Regions from separate parts of the Homo sapiens genome. Here region 2 is linked to region 1. Evidence: fine-mapped expression QTL. Tissue or cell type: whole blood. Region 1 holds a variant in brackets; the other region holds the start of a gene. All regions are shown on one strand. Distances are from middle to middle.

Region 1 (8,101 bases):
TCTGGGCGGTTTTCTGGGGGTATGGGTCAAGTTCTCAAAGGGGTCGGGGAGCTGGGGATGGTCAGCAGCGGGGCCTGGGTGGAGTTGGGGAGCTGGGAGGTCCCAGGCTCTGCTCCTGACAGGCTGGGGCCTCCCCTCCTTGGCTCCATGCCTCGAAGCTGCCGGGGTGGGACGGGGACGACGGAGCTAACCCAGGCAGAGGAAGAGCCGTGCATATCATTCTTTCGCTAACACGGAGCCAACGCAGGCTCCACGGGGACAGGAGCCAGACCCTCACTGGACGCACATGGGCCCTCACTGTGGCCTGCAGAGCAAGCAGTCATCCCATTTGATGGGTGAGGAAACTGAGGCACAGCAAGCTCTCATGGCTGGCTGGGAGCTCTGGGCTTGTGACCACAGCATCTGAAGGCTGGGCTCTTCTCTGGGGGGTGGGGGGACTCTACCACTGTCATCGTGTAACCTCCAGAGGAACCACTTCTCAGCAGTGCAGACACTCCCGACCCCCAAGGGCTGGGTCTGGGGACATGTTATAAGTGTTTTGTTTTCTTTGTGAGATGGGGTCTCACAATGTTGCCCCTGCTGGTCTTGAAACCCTGGGCTCAAGCCATCTGCCTGCCTCCCAAAGAGCTGGGATCCCAGGCGTGAGCCACTGTGTCCGGCCACATTTTAGGTTAAGGCCATAAAAGCTTGAGCGCTTCTGGATCCCACACTGGGGTGGGGCCTGCTGTAGGCTGCAGGGCAGGTGGGCCTCGGCCTGGCACCCTCCCTGGCCCTGCCTGCCCAGGCCGAGCCCTCACCACGCAGTCCCACCTGCCACCCTCCCTCCCCGGCCGGGGCCGAGCCCTCACCAGGCAGTCCCGCTGCAGCGTCTTGACCAGGGCGCTGAAGGTGTCGGCGTCCAGCAGGAGCCCCTCGGGCATGTCCTGCATGAAGTCCAGGTCCTTGTAGGTGGGGAAGCTCTTCTCCTTCTCCTTCTTGCTGGCGCGCCGCTTGTAGGTGGAGCCCTTGAGGTCGAACTTGAGGTGCATCTTGACCACGCGGGGCAGGATGTTGTTCATGACCACGACGCGGATGTTCTTGCCCCCCGACTGCACGCAGTACAGCCCATAGAACTTGGGCAGCAGCGTCCGCGGGTTCTGGTTGAGGTTCTGCCGGGGGAAGAGGGCAAGTCGTGGAGGGCGGCTGGGCCACAGACTCACGGGGGCGGGCAAAGCAGGCCTCTGCCTCAGGGGGCTCATGGATGCCCCTGGCCAGCCCCCCTCTCTCCCCAGAAGCCCTCGGGGACCCCGTTCCTATGCAGGCACCCAGCTGGCCTTCCCACGGCACCCTGACTCTCATGGGCCACAACTGTGAGCTCCAGGAGGGTCTGTTTCTACAGAGCCAGGCCCCAAGGCAGGCGCTTCTGTTCCAGCAGAAGCTTCCACACTCCCTGCCTGCCCACAGACATCGCCCTGGCTGGGCTCGCCTGTTGGGAGGTCTGGAGGCCGGAAACGCAATGCTGTATCCTAAAATACATACATGTATGTATATGCACACACAAACACATACACACACACGCACACACACATGTATTTTCTTGAGACAGGGTCTCGCTCTGTCGCCCAGGCTGGAGTGCAACGGTGCGATCACAGCTCACTGCAGCCTCCACCTCCAGGGCTCAAACCATCCTCCCACCTCAGCCTCCGAAAGTGCCAGGACTCCAGGCGTGAGCCCAGCCTCTATGTTGGTTATGCTTTGCCTGTGTTGAACTGATCAACTCAGACTTTCACTCCAAATCTGGGTCCCCAGGCGCAGTGACGAGTCTGGGTCCTGCTGTACCCTGTAGACCCCAAGCAGGCACTGGGTGACTCAGGGGCACCCAAGTGAAGCAACAGCGCCCCCTGCCCAGAGCCTCTCAATGACGAACCCAGTGGGAAGCTGCCCAGGTGTCGGGGCTGAGACAGACCCACAGGGAGAGGAGTGAGGGGCGCGGACTCAGGCACCAGCCTGGGCAGGCTAGGTGAACTCCAGCCCCTGGGCCGAATCCGGCCACCACCTATTTTTGTAGGGCTGTGAGCTAAGAATGGTTTTTCCATTTTTAAAAAGTGGAAAGGGCCCAGTGCGATGGCTCATGCCTGTAATCCTAGCACTGTGGGAGGCCGAGGCGGGCGGATCACCTGAGGTCAGGAGTTTGAGACCAGCCTGGCCAACATGGTGAAACCCCGTCTCTATTAAAAATAAAAATTAGCTGGGAGTGGTGGCGCATGCCTGTAATCCCAGCTGCTTGGGAGGCTGAGGCAGGAGAATCACTTGAACCTAGGAGATGGAGGTTGCAGTGAGCCGAGATTGTGCCATTGCATTCCAGCCTGGGCAACAGAGCCAGACTCCATCTCAAAAGAAAAAAAAAAAAAAAGGCCAAGCACAGTGGCTCACATCTATAATCCTAGCACTTTGGGAGGCCAAGGCAGGCAGATCATGAAGTCAGGAGACCAGCTTGACCAACACGGTGAAACCCCATCTCTACTAAAAATACAAAAATTAGCCAGGCGTGGTGGTAGGTGCCTGGAATCACAACTACTCAGGAGGCTGAGGCAGCAGAATCGCTTGAACCCAGGAGGCGGAGCTTGCAGTAAGCCAAGATCACGCCAATGCACTCCAGCCTGGGTGACAGAGCGAGACTCCATCTCAAAAAAAAAAAAAAAAAAAAAAATGAAGAGGCCAGGCGCGGTGGCTCACGCCTATAATTCCAACACTCCAGGAGGCCGAGACAGGCAGATCACGACATCAGGAAATCGAGACCATCCTGGCTAACACGGTGAAACCATGTCTCTACTAAAAATATAAAAAAATAGCCAGGCGTGGTGGCGGGCGCCTGTAGTCCCAGCTACTCGGGAGGCTGAGGCAGGAGAATGGCTTGAACCCAGGAGGGGGAGGCTGCAGTGAGCCAAGATGGCACCACTGCACTCCAGCCTGGGTGACAGAGCGAGACTCCGTCTCAAAACATAAATAAATAAATAAAAAAGTGGAGAAATAGAAAATAGTCTTTGATGACACGTGAAAGTGATATGGAATTCGCATTTCTTGGTCCATAAATAATGCGTATGGGCACATGGCCGCGCCCATCCATTCTCATGTGGTCACAGCAGCTCGCTGCCATCCAGGCAGAGCTCAGTCCTGGAGACACAGCACACTGGCTCGCAGAGCCAAAAACACTCTCTCTGGGCCTTTAAAGACTGAGTTTGCTGAGCCTGATCTAAGGAGCCCGGGCCCCTCGCTAAGCATCACAGAGAGTGGATGGAGGAGGCCTCAAGGGAAACTGAGTCACAGGCTGTGCTGTGCTGCCCAGGGCCGGGCAGCAGCTTGGGCCTGGCAACATGGAAGGCGCCCACCTCGTCTGGGCGAGTACCGGAATCCCAGGCCCAGGAACACTGTGGCAGCCGCCGGCTCCTACTCCTACTCCCCCCTCCCGGGGCCTGACGCACCCTTTCTGTGAGTCATGCGGGATGAGGGGTGGGCCGGATGGAGCTGCCTCACGCCTGCCTGAGCAGCTGGTCTTTTGTGGGGTACCATCTGGTGGCCCATCCCCCTCCTCTCTGGAACCCTCTGAGTCACCCTTGGGCCCCTTGGGCCTCCGTGGCAGCTGACAGACGCTGCCCGCAGGCTGCTGGTTCTGGGGCCCACGGCTCATAGGGGGTGTTGGCAAGGTGGGGATGGGGAGCCAGGCAGGGGCCGGTGCCCACCCAGCCCTGCCCGGGGACGGCCCCCAAGGCGTGTGGCCACAGGAGGAAGAGAGGGCGGCTCCTGAACACTGGTGCTGGTGAAGCCTGACGGGGGACCCCCGAGGGTGAGTCCCCGGGACCCAAGATGCCTCTCACCACGCCCCAAGGATGCCTGCTTGCCCAAGCCTTGCAGACATCTGCTCCCGCCAGCCGGGAGAAGGGGGTTGACCGAGGAGCCATCTGCCCCGCAGGGCGGGCCACGCACCATGTAGTAGCCAGGGAGCAGCTTCTGCAGGAACTCGGCCTCCTTGTGCATGACGGTCTTGATGATGAACTCGTCGTCGCTGGTGACGTAGAAGAGGGAGCCACTGGCGCCCGGGTTGGACAGCTCGATCAGCGGCTCATTGCACAGGGAGTACTGGAAGCAGAGGAGGCGGGTCAGCGGGCCCCAAGCTGCCGGACACACAGACAGCACTGGCTTCCGGTCTGCCCAACAGC[C/T]CCAGGAACTGATGACGGGTCGCTGCATTTTACAGATGCGGAAAGAGAGGCTCAGAGAGGGCGAGAGACTTGCCTGAGGCTAGCCAGCAAGGACTGGAGCCTGAGGCCGAGCTGACTCTGCAGCCCGAGGGCTGGTCTGCTAGGGCGCACTCCCCAGGCTGCCTGCTGCTCTCCTTAGGAGCGGACACCTGATCGCACCGGGGTGCTGACGCGCGTGGCTAAAAGGTGCTCCCAGCACCCCTGAAGCTGGGTGGGGCCACAACGCCAGCTCTGCCCCATGAGTCATAAGCAGAAGCTGTCAGGTGGAACTCAGGGAAGGCTCCACAGATGGGCGACAGGCAGCTGGCATACCTGCGTATTTGCCCTTCTCTCCTTCCCACCTATTTCCCTCCTGAGATGCTGATGTGATGGCTGGAACCTCAGCAGCCACACTGGACTAGAAGGTAAGCTCTGGGATGGAAGCTGCATCTCTGATGGGCAGGCCCCACTCTGGCCCCTGGCACCCCACAGTCCAAGCCCTTCCTCCCCACTTCTCTGCCCCTTTTTCTCAGCCCCTGCTGTTTGTTTCATGATGTGCTCGCTGTCTCTCTGCCCCCACGCCCTCTCCTGGACATTAGGCAGAAGGTCCGTGCAGGTGGAAGTTTTTTTGTGTCACTGACTCGACAGGTGCTCGATTTGCTAAGGACTAGAATGAAGATGAGACCCACGGGTGCTACCCTGCGTCTTCCGGGTATGGAACCAATGAAGTGTGCATGGGGCTAAGGCCATCTGTGTCACGCCCTTTAAAATCCTAACTGGTCGCCATTGGTGTACACGGATGAGGTCAGAGCCAGCTCCCCATCAGCGGAGCAAGCCAGGCCCCCCAGGGTCAACGCTGGGTCCGTATCTGCTGGACGACAGAAGGGTGGTCTCCGAGTGCTGCGTGCCGCCTCCAATGCTGCTGTGATAAACAGGTGGGGGGTGTCCACGAGAGTCAGGAGTGGTGGCGAGCAGAAGCGAGGGGAGGCCAGGCACGGCGGCTCACCCAGCACTCTGTAATCCCAACACCTTGGGAGGCTGAGGAGGATCATTTGAGCCCAGGAGTTCAAGACCAGCCTGGGCAACAGAGCGAGGCCTCATCTGTACTAAAAAAAAAAAAGAAAGAAAACAAAAACAGGCATGGTGATGCCCATCTGTGGTCCCAGCTACTTGGGAGGCTGAGGTGGGAGGATCACTTGAGCCCAGGAGGTCAAGGCTGCTGTGAGCTGTGACAGCGCCACTGCCCTCCAACCTGGGCAACAGAGCAAGAGTGTTTAAAAAAACACCCCAACAAGTGAGGGGAACCACCTTTGGAAAATGCTGGAAGAGCCAGGGGCTTGAGGCGTGAGTTGGGTCCCCAGCGCCACACACACTCTGATCTGTGAATATGTTTGGGGACCAGAGGACGCCGGAAACATGAGGTCACATCAGGCCCAGGGCCTGGGAATGCCCCAGTCCCTCCTTGGGCTCAAGTCACCACCCCCGCCCTGCACTGCCCGAGGTGCTCTCGGGCCAGGGAACGGCGCCATCAGTTATCACACGTCGGTCAACACAGGCTGGATTTTGCGGAGTCAGCAACAGCCCTGCCAACCTTGGCAGCTCAGAACAGCGAGGGTCCTTCCTCCTGCATGCGCTGCTTCTGCCATGGCCTGGCTGGGAGTGATGGTGCAGGGTGAGAGAGCCGTGTGGGGTGGACTCTGAGGCTGGAGGGAGATCTGTCCAGGCCACTGCTGTCGCCCAGCCCAGCCATCTGCCTGCCTTTTTCTGCCCACAGCCACGAGCCACAAATATCCACAGGAAACACAGAGCCCACGCGGCTCCTCCGCCTTCCCCGCCACGGCAGGACGCCCTCCAGCCTCCCAGACACAGGCGCAGCAGCGCAGAGCGAAGGCGGGTCTCTCCTGGGGCTGGCGCCCTCCCTGGGAGGCCAGGGGACCCCGCCAAGCCCTGGGCCGCTGTCCTCAGGTCACCCGGAGCAGGGGACACCCCAAGCAGCCGGAGTGTCCCTCCGAGACACAAATCACTGCTGCCTGTCCACGGTGGCAGGAGGGGGAGGCCGATCTCACCTGCAGAGCGGAAAACACTGTGGAAAGGGCACGTTCGGCTTTGTACAAAGAACACCGATGACAGGGAAATTCTGAAGCCACATGACTAATGGCAGTTGCAGGGCTATGGCCTCCATGGGCCTCAGCTGCTACGGGGAAGCAGGCCCCATGCGTGGATTTCTGAGCCAGGCAGTGCCAGGACAACCCCCCACAGCCTCCTTCGTCGGTGCTGGGGCTCTCGGCAGCTGCGCCGCTGACCTTGGCCTCCTCTCCACCCTCTGCTGACCACTGGGCAGGGCTGAGCCCCACCCTGCATCCCACCTCCGCCTTCTCCTTCCTGGCTGTCCTGAGCTGTGGGCCTTCCTGGAGCTACCCCCCTTACCAGGGGGGACTGTGACCTCAGCTGTCCAATCAGAGAAGCACCGGCAACCTCGAGTCCCCTCCGAACCCTACCTGTCCCCACTCAAGCTCAGGGGCCCTGTGGACAGCAACACGCACACTAGCCCGTCCTCCCGCTGTGGCACACGGCCACACTCACACCACAGCCTGGACAGAGGCTAGGGGGCTGCCGCCTGCTCAGCACCGGAGGCCCCCAAGAGAATTCTCACACTCCTGAGATGAGCAGAAGGATTCGGGGGTCACCAACACCGGGCTGGCTCCCCAGATGCTGTGGGTGCACACCTGGCCTAAGGCCCTGGAATGCGATCTTATCGGGTTCTAGGTGAGACCCAGATGGCCCCAGATCGGCTTTTATCCGTCCACTCCTGCTAATGGACACGGGTGCTGTCTCTCTGCTACGAGCCAGGCTGCTGCCTTCTGTTCCTGGCCGCCTCACACGGTAGCGTCCAGGTCACCCGAGGGCCATTTCTAGGCAAAAACCCCAGCTGTGTTTTCACTCCCCACTGCCCTGCCAAGCTCAGGCAAACGCTGGGACACTGAAGTCCGGAGGCTGGGCCTTGGCGACACGACCCGGAGCATGGTGACTCCCGGGCACCTGAACAGGCTGGAGTTCTCGGGGCGGGGGAGGGGGGGGTGTCACACGTACCCCTGGCTGGAGCACATGCTAGTTCTCCCTGGAAGAGCGCAGCCTCGGGCGCTTCCTACAGACTGAGATAAACCAAACGCACGCACAGTCAGCAACCACCAAAGAAAGGCACAAGGAACCGACCACCGCGGGTGAGGGCAGGATCGGAGAACCACAGGCTCCCGGCCCCGGGGACCGTGCTGTCGTGACAACCAGAACGCCAACCGCACTTGTCTACAGAGTTCCAGTCTTCCCTGATACAAAGTTCTCGGGATGACCAGGCAGGCTTGGGAAAAGGCCACCCGGAGCTTTTAGAAGTGGTGATGGCGCAGGTTGGATGCCGGGGCTCACGCCTGGAATCCCAGCACTTCGGGAGGCTGAGGCGGTAGCTCACGCCTCTAATCCCAGCACTACGGGAGGCTGAGACAGGCAGATCACGAGGTCAGGAGATCGAGACCATCCTGGCTGACACGGTGAAACCCCGTCTCTACTAAAAATACAAAAAATTAGCCGGGCGTGGTGGCAGGCACCTGTAGTCCCAGCTACTCGGGAAGCTGAGGCAGGAGAATGGCGTGAACCCAGGAGGCGGAGCTTACAGTGAGCCGAGATCGCACCACTGCACTCCAGCCTGGGCGACAGAGCGAGACTCTGTCTCGAAAAAAAAAAAAGGGGGTGCTGGCGCTGATGAGCTCCAGGGCCACTGTGGGGAGCACCACCCTCCAAACACCTCTTTTAGGAGCCCGGATAATGGGCTGCTAGGTCAAAGGGGTTGGCCTAGATTTTGACTTTGCTAACCTGAAACAATAAAGCCATGGCTA
Region 2 (8,101 bases), 45 kb after region 1:
AGAGGAGGACCAAGCTGGACTGGGGAGGACTGAGCCGGATGGAGGAGGACTAAGCTGGACCGGGGAGGACCGAGCTGGACCCGGGAGGACCGAGCCAGATGGAGGAGGACCAAGCCGGATAGAGGACCGAGCCGGATGGAGGAGGACTGGGCCGGACGGAGGAGGACCGAGCTGGACCGGGGAGGACCGAGCCAGACAGAGGAGGACTGAGCCAGACGGAGGAGGACTGAGCTGGACCGGGGAGTACTCAGCCAGACGGAGGAGGACCGAGCTGTACGGAGGAGGACCGAGCTGGACCGAGGAGGACCGAGCTGGACCGGGGAGGACCGAGCTGGACCAGGGAGGACCAAGCTGGACCCGGGAGGACCAAGCTGGACCCGGGAGAGGCAGAGGACAGGGAAGGAGTCAGTGGGTTCTGGGCCAGTTCTGAAGGTGAAGCTGCCATCATTTGCTGCCAGATCAGCCGTGGAAGTGGGGCAGGGGCAGGGATGCAGCTGACCTTTCCAGGGCATCACAGAGACAGATCAGCCGTGGGAGTGGGGCAGGGGCAGGGATGGAGCTGACCGTTCTGGGGCATCACAGAGACAGGACAGCCTGGGAGAGGCTCAGACACGCCCAGGCCACAGCTCAGACCAAACTCCACCACAGGCCATCGGCCCACACAGTGGGCACAGCCGCATCCCAAGCCCCGGCCTTCCCGAGACCGCCCCCACGTGCCCCACGGCCACGGCCCATGGAGACGCCATTCAGGCCACGCCTCGGGAGCCAGGAGCCCAGGCAATTAGAGGAACCAAATTCTAAACACCAACGAGACATTGCTTTGCCTCCCATCGGATCAGCCGAAATCGCCAAGGACGATGACACTGGGAGCTGGCAGTGCCGTGGGAAACGGGCAGCCTCCCTCGGCCCCTGTCGGACAAGGCTCCCGCTGTAGCTGAGCTTTCTGGAAGGTGTCGCCATCGCTTCTAACAGTGAGCGGTGACTCCAGAAACCACGGGCATGGGCCTCAGCAGGGGCCTGGAGGCACCGATGGTGGAGAGGCCGGAAAGGGGTGGCCAACCGGCACGACAATCACCAAGCACGAGCGCCAACTCATCCCAGGCTCAGCCCCTAGCACACACGGTCATCACCCCACTTCACAGACGGGACGCTGAAGCCCGGGGAAGTGACGGCCACACAGCACCTGAAGCGCGGAGCTGGGAGGGGGACATCGGCGGGACCAACTCTGGGGCTCCCCCTTAACCACTGCCTGGCGCTCGCCCTCTCTACAAACCGATACCAACATAGGGTGGGGAGACTCCAGATGACCAGAGATAAAAAGCAAGCAGTTCACAGAGTCATAAACGTGTGGCATTTCTCACCAGGGCCGTCCTGCCCCCAGGGGACACTGAACGGTGTCTGGGTCACTTGTGGCTGTCACAACTGGCAGGTGCTCCTGGCATGGAGTGGGCAGAAGCCAGGGGCGTTGCTCAGCACCCCTAATTTCCTGACTCAAAATACCTCTGCCAAGGCACAGAAGCCCCAGTGAGGCATGAAACCATCTCGGTGAAGAACAAGCAGGCCCCTTTATGTGCTCACGTCTCTGTGGCCCAGCCAGGCACAACCTAAACTCACCAGCGCTAACATCAGGAGGGATGGCGTTGGAGGAGTGAGGCAACTCTGAATTTTAAACATTCAGAAGCAGTATATGGCCAGCTGGGGTCAGATTTCTGTGGATTTCAGGGATGGGCAGAGATGCCAGACCCTGACCTTCCAGCCCTCCCCGGCCCCCCACCCCCACCCCCCCACTCCCCCGCTCTCCCACCCCACCACCATGCTCAGTCTGGAGCTGGCAACTTTATCTGTCCCCGGTGCTCCCAGAGCCCCTGATAAGATGAATGGTCGCGGTGTGGTTTTCTTTTGGTCAGCGAGTCCTGGGCTACTTTGTCTCTGACCAGCTGGGGTCAGAGGGCTGACAGCGGAAGTTGGGGGGCCCAAGAAAGGAACCCGGGCTGGGGCCTGGTGCCCTGCCTGGGTTCCTCCACCATGTCTCTTGCTGGCCAGGCCAGGACACCGGCTGCCCGCAAAGAAAGGGGCGAGGCCACTGGCTCTGGGGAAGGAACCGGGTCACCTACCAAGCGGTTCCAGATGGCCGCCGGGAGGGAAGCCACGAGTGTCTTTCAAGGCGGGGGGTGGGGGGGGGACTTGATGACTTCCACACTCTCTCTCTCTCCAGACATCTCCCCAACTCCCAGGCAGCACGCATCGCCCGCCCGCCCGCTTGCCCGCCTGCCAACCAAGGAAGCTTCGGGAGGCCTGGGGGGAGAAGGAGGACGGATGCCCGTGTGGGTGTCTACAGAGACGCTGCTGCTGGCTGCCTGGGAGGAGCAGAGGATTTTGTGAATCCGGAAACTTCCGATTTGGGAGCTTGTGACCTCGACTGAGAAGGAACTGTTCCCTTCCTCTGGGCTCTGCACACCGTCCCCACAGAAGGGAAGGCCCAGCTGCCGCCACCTACCCGGCTGGAGGTCCAGGAAGCAGCTAAAGGGGGCATGAGACAGCCGTGCCCCCCGCCCAGCCCGCAGCCCCACCAGTGTGTCCTGGGGGAAGGCTCGGGGAGAGGAAAAGGGGGCGACAGGGCACCCTGTGTGCACAGCCGGGGCGGTGGAGGCATCTTGAGATGTAACCCTTTTCCTCCCCTCATTTTAGCAGGGAGGTAAACTGAGGCCCAGGAAGGTGAGGAAAGGTCGCGCACCCGGACTCAGGTCTGGGGACTTACAGAAAGGGAGGTGACATCAGGAGGTGGGCACGCACGGCCTCAGAGACCCCCGCCTCCACCCAAGCAGCCGCCACTCACACGACGGGCAGCCCCTGGGAGCGGGTCAGGCAGAACGGGGATCCCCAGCGGCGCCCACGCCGAGTCGCCCCCGGCCCGGGAGCGGTGGGAGGTAGCCCCTCGCAGGCCTCCCGCTTCCCGGCGCGGCTTCAGCCCCGTCCTCCCCGCGGCTCCAGGGGACTGCCCCGCCCCAGGCTCCTGGAACCGGCGGCGCCCCCGCAGCGACCGTGCAGCCCCCGCCCCGGCCCCGCAGCCCCGCGACTCTCGGCGCTCGGACGAGCCCAGCGGGCCGCAGCCCCGGGAGGCCGGGCCGTTACCTGCCGCCGCCCCGCTCTCTGCCGCCCACGCCGCCTCCGAGGGCACGGCCCCCGCCTCAGCGCTCTCCGCCTCGTCCGGTACCTCCAGCTCCATGGCCGCGCGCGGACGGCGGCGGGGGCGCCCGAGGGGGACCCGAGCTGCGACCGCCGCCGCCGAACAACAAGCGCCGCCGGCCAAGGGAGGGCGCGCCGGGCCGGCGCGGGGCGGACGGGGCGGGGCCTGCGTGCGTGCGACGCCGCGGACGGCGCGCGGCCAATCGGGGCTCGGGGGCGGGGCCTGCTTGCGACCCGCAGCCAGGAGCGCCTCGAGTGCCCCCTCGCGCCCAGGGGTGGGAGTACAGAGCCAGGCTCGCCATTCCATCGTATTAGGTCAGTAAGATTGACAGGCACGATACGTATCAATAACATTGCTGTGCACAACACATACCAATAACATGGATCTACACAACACATGACAATAATATGGATCTATACAGCACGTGCCAATAATATGGATGTACACAGCACATGCCAATAACATGGATCTAAACAGCACATGCCAATAACAGGGACCTGCACAGCGCATGACAATAACATGGATCTGGCCGGGCGCGGTGACTCACGCCTATATTCCCGGCACTTTGGGAGGCCGAAGAGGGCGGATCACCTGAGGTCAGGAGTTCAAGACCATCCTGACCAACATGGTGAAATCCTGTCTCTACTAAAAATACAAAAAATAGCTGGGCGTGGTGGCACATGCCTGTAATCGCGGCTACTCGGGAGGCTGAGGCAGGAGAATCGCTGGAACCCAGGAGGGAGAGGTTGCAGTGAGCTGAGATCGCACCATTGCCCTCCAGCCTGGGCCACAGAGTGAGACTCTGTCCCAAAAAAAACCACACATGGACCTACACAGCACATGCCAATAACATGGAGTTACCCAATGCATGCCAATAACATGGATATACACAATACATGCCAATAACACGGATATGCACAATACATGCCAATAACATGGATATACACAATACATGCCAATAACATGAATCTATACTATATCATTGACATGGATCTACATAAAACATACAAATAGCATTGCTATATGCAATACATGCCAATCACATTGCTATACACAATGAATACCAATAACATTGATCTACACAATACATGTAACTAACATTGATACACACACTACATGTCAATAACATTGATATACACACTACATGCCAATAACATGGATATACACACTACATGCCAATAACATTGATATACACACTACATGCCAATAACATTAATGTACACACTACATGTCAATAACATTGATATACACACTACATGTCAATAACATTGATATGCACAAAATATACCAATAACAGTGATATACACAGTACATGTAAATAATATTGATCTACACAGGGCCGGGCGCGGTGGCTCATGCCTGTAATCCCAAGACTTTGGGAGGCCGAGGCGGGCGGATCACGAGGTCAGGAGATTGAGACCATCCTGGTTAACATGGTGAAACCCCGTCTCTACTAAAAATACAAAAAATTAGCCAGGCGTGGTGGCGGGCGCCTGTAGTCCCAGCTACTTGGGAGGCTAAGGCAGGAGAATAGGGTGAACCTGGGAGGCAGAGCTTGCAGTGAGCTGAGATCGTGTCACTGCACTCCAGCCTGGGCAACAGAGCGAGACTCCATATCAAAAAAAAATATATATATATATAGATCTACACAATACATGTTATTAACATTGATCTACGCAATACATATCAATAACATTTGCAATTAACTACCTGTTTATTATCATATTGCAAATAATATTTATATTCCATCGTTTGTATTACGTAAGTATAGATATGTTATTGTTTTCTTTATATTATTTTATCAATAATAATACAGTTTGCTATTATAAGAAACATATAATTATAGAAATACATAATAAATTATATATATTTATGCAAATGTAAGTAGCAATATTTATATCCTTCTTTTTTTTTTTTGAGATGGAGTCTTGCTGTTGTTGCCCAGGCTGGAGTGCAGGGGGGCGATCTGAGCTCACTGCAACCTCTGCCTCCAGGGTTCAAGTGATTCTCCTGCCTCACCCTCCCAAGTAACTAGGACTACAGGTACGTGCCACCACGCCCGGCTAATTTTTGTATTTTTAGTAGAGATGAGGTTTCGCCATGTTGGCCAGGCTGGTCTTGAACGCCTGACCTCGTGATCTTCCCGCCTCAGCTTCCCAAAGTGCTGGGATTACAGGTGTGAGCCACTGCGCCCGGCCATATTTATGTTCTTTATATAAGCACATAATAAGGCTTATGTTGTTTATGTTAATTTAAGTAATAACGTTTATATTATTTACATAAATGTAAATCATAATGATTATATTACCTATGCACATAAATAATGTTTGGGGTGGGCACAGAGGCTCCCGCCTGTAATTCCAGCACTTTGGGAGGCCAAGGCAGGAGGATTACTTGAGCTCAGGAGTTCTAGACCAGCCTGGGTAACATAGTGAGCCCTCTCATCTCTACAAAAAAAATTTTTTTAATTAGCTAGGTGTAGTGAGACCCCTCATCTTTACAAAAAAAATTGTTTTTTAATTAGCCAGCTACTTAGTAGGCTAAGGTGGGAGGACTGCTTGAGCCCGGGAACTCAAGGCTGCAGTGAGCTATGATCGCACCACTGCACTCTGGCCTGGGCAACAGAGAAAGACCCCGTCTGTCCCCGCAAAAAAAAAAAACAAACAAAAAAAACAAAAAGACAAATTCTGTGTGGTTCCACTCCTAGGAGGTCCCTAGAGTTGTCACATTCACAGAGACAGAAAGTAGGATGGGGGGTGCCAGGGGCTTGGGGGGAGACGAGGAGTGAGTGTTTCACAGGGGCAGACTTCCAGTCTCAGAAGATGAGAACATTCTGGAGATGATGGCGGTGATGTTTGCACAGCCATGGGAATGTGCTTAAGGCCACGGAGCTGTGCTCTTAGACATGGTGAAAATGGGCCGGGCGCGGGGGCTCACACCTGCAATCCCAGCACTTTGGGAGGCCGAGGTGGGCGGATTACCTGAGGTCGGGAGTTCAAGACCAGCCTGACTAACATGGAGAAACCCCGTCTCTACTAAAAATACAAAATTAGCCAGGCGTGGTGGCGCGTGCCTGTAATCCCAGCTACTCGGGAGGCTGAGGCAGGAGAATCACTTGAACCCGAAAGGCAGAGGTTGCAGTGAGCCAACATGGCACCACTGCACTCCAGCCTGGGCGACAGAGCAAGACTCTGTCTCCAAAAAAAAAAAAAAAAAAAAAAGAAGAAGAAGAAGAAGAAAGAAATGGTGAAAATGGGCCGGGTGCGGTGGCTCACGCCTGTCATCCCAGCACTTTGGGAGGCCGAGGCTGGCAGATCACCTAAGGTCAGGAGTTCAAGACCAGCCTGGTCAATGTGGTGAAACCCTGTCTCTACTAAAAATACCAAAAAATTAGCTGGGCATAGTGGCACAGGCCTATAATCCCAGCTACTCGGGAGGCTGAGGCAGGAGAATCACTTGAACCTGAGAGGCAGAGGTTGCAGTGAGCCAACATGGCACCACTGCACTCCAGCCTGGGCAACAGAGCAAGACTCGAAAAAAAAGAAATGGTGAAAATTGTGAATTGTATGTTGTGCGTATTTTACTACCATTTTTTGTTTTTTCTTTTTTGAGATGAGTCTTGCTCTGTTACCCAGGCTGGAGTGCAGTGGCGTGATCTCGGCTTACTGCAGCCTCTGCCTCCCAGGTTCAAGCGATCCTCCCACCTCAGCCTCCCAAGTAGCTGAGACCACAGGTGTGTGCTACCATACCTGGCTAATTTTTGTAATTTCAGTAGAAATGGGATTTCACTGTGTTGGCCAGGCTGGTGTCAGGTGATCTGCCCACCTCGGCCTCCCAAAGTGTGAGGATTACAGGCGTCAGCCACTGCAGGCGGCCTTGACCATTTTAAGGCTCCAGGAAGAGTTCTTTGGACGCAGGTCATGGACAGAGCTCCTGATTCACCCAGAATCTGTTTTGAAAAAAGATTTAGACCACTGGCTCTCAAGGTGTGGTCCCTGGGCCAGCCACATCAGCCTCACCCTGGGAGCTTGTTAGAAATGCAGGTTCCAAAGCCAGGTGCAGTGGTTCATGCCTGTAATCCCAGTGCTTTGGGATTGAGGCTGAGGCAGGAGAATCACTTTAGCCCAGGAGTTCAAGACCAGCCTGGGCAACATAGCAAGATCCCATCTCTACAAAACAAATTAAAAATTAGTCTGGCGTGGCCAGATGCAGTGGCTCACGCCTGTAATCCCAGCACTTTGGGAGGTTGAGGCAGGTGGATCGCCTGAGGTCAGGAGTTCGAGACCAGCCTGACCATCACGGAGAAACCCTGTCTCTACTAAAAATACAAAAATTAGTCGGGCATGGTGGCGCATGCCTGTAATCCCAGCTACTTAGGAGGCTGAGGCAGGAGAATTGCTTGAACCCGGGAGGCAGAGGTTGCAGTGAGTCAAGATCTCGCCATTGCGCTCCAGCCTGGGCAGCAAGAGCGAAACTCCTCTCAAAAAAACAAAAATAGCCTGGCATGGTGGTGCACACCTGTAGTCCCAGCTACTTGGGAGGCTGAGGTGGGAGGATCGCTTGAGCCCAGAAGTTTGAAGCTGCAGTGAGCTATGATCACACCACTACAGTCCAGCCTGGGCAACAGAGCGAGACCTGGTCTCAAAACAAACAATGAAAAGTAAAAGAAATGCAGGTTCCTAGGCCCCCACCCAGACTTCACACACCAGAAACTGGGCAGAGTAGGGTGGTGGGAGGGCACAATCTGGGTGTTCATGACTCCTCCCTTCCAGGCAAACTGGGTGCCAGATAAAGTTTGGGGGAAGGGGCCAGCCACGGTGGCTCATACCTGTAATCCCAGCACTTTGAGAGGCCAAGGTGGGCGGATCACTTGAGGTCAGGAGTTCGAGACCAGCCTGGCCAACATGGAGAAAC

What was found. PIP is the estimated chance that this variant, and not a neighbour inherited with it, causes the effect.
Region 2: it holds the start of PIP5K1C, and the variant in region 1 is fine-mapped to the expression of PIP5K1C in whole blood (TOPMed, PIP above 0.99).

The regions. Positions count from the first base shown.
Region 1 is chr19:3,652,442-3,660,542 of GRCh38, forward strand. It overlaps PIP5K1C (phosphatidylinositol-4-phosphate 5-kinase type 1 gamma), which reads right to left. Exons shown (of 18, transcript NM_012398.3): 6 at 3,964-4,116; 7 at 849-1,148. Among named protein-coding and RNA genes, the nearest start is that of CACTIN, 30 kb to the left of the region's middle. RefSeq lists silencers at 3,666-3,775, 3,796-3,845. The variant C/T (reference allele first, on the strand shown) is at 4,197.
Region 2 is chr19:3,697,165-3,705,265 of GRCh38, forward strand. It overlaps PIP5K1C (phosphatidylinositol-4-phosphate 5-kinase type 1 gamma), which reads right to left and starts at 3,304. Exons shown (of 18, transcript NM_012398.3): 1 at 3,133-3,304. The coding sequence starts at 3,226. RefSeq lists an enhancer at 2,361-3,144 and silencers at 2,843-2,982, 3,063-3,552.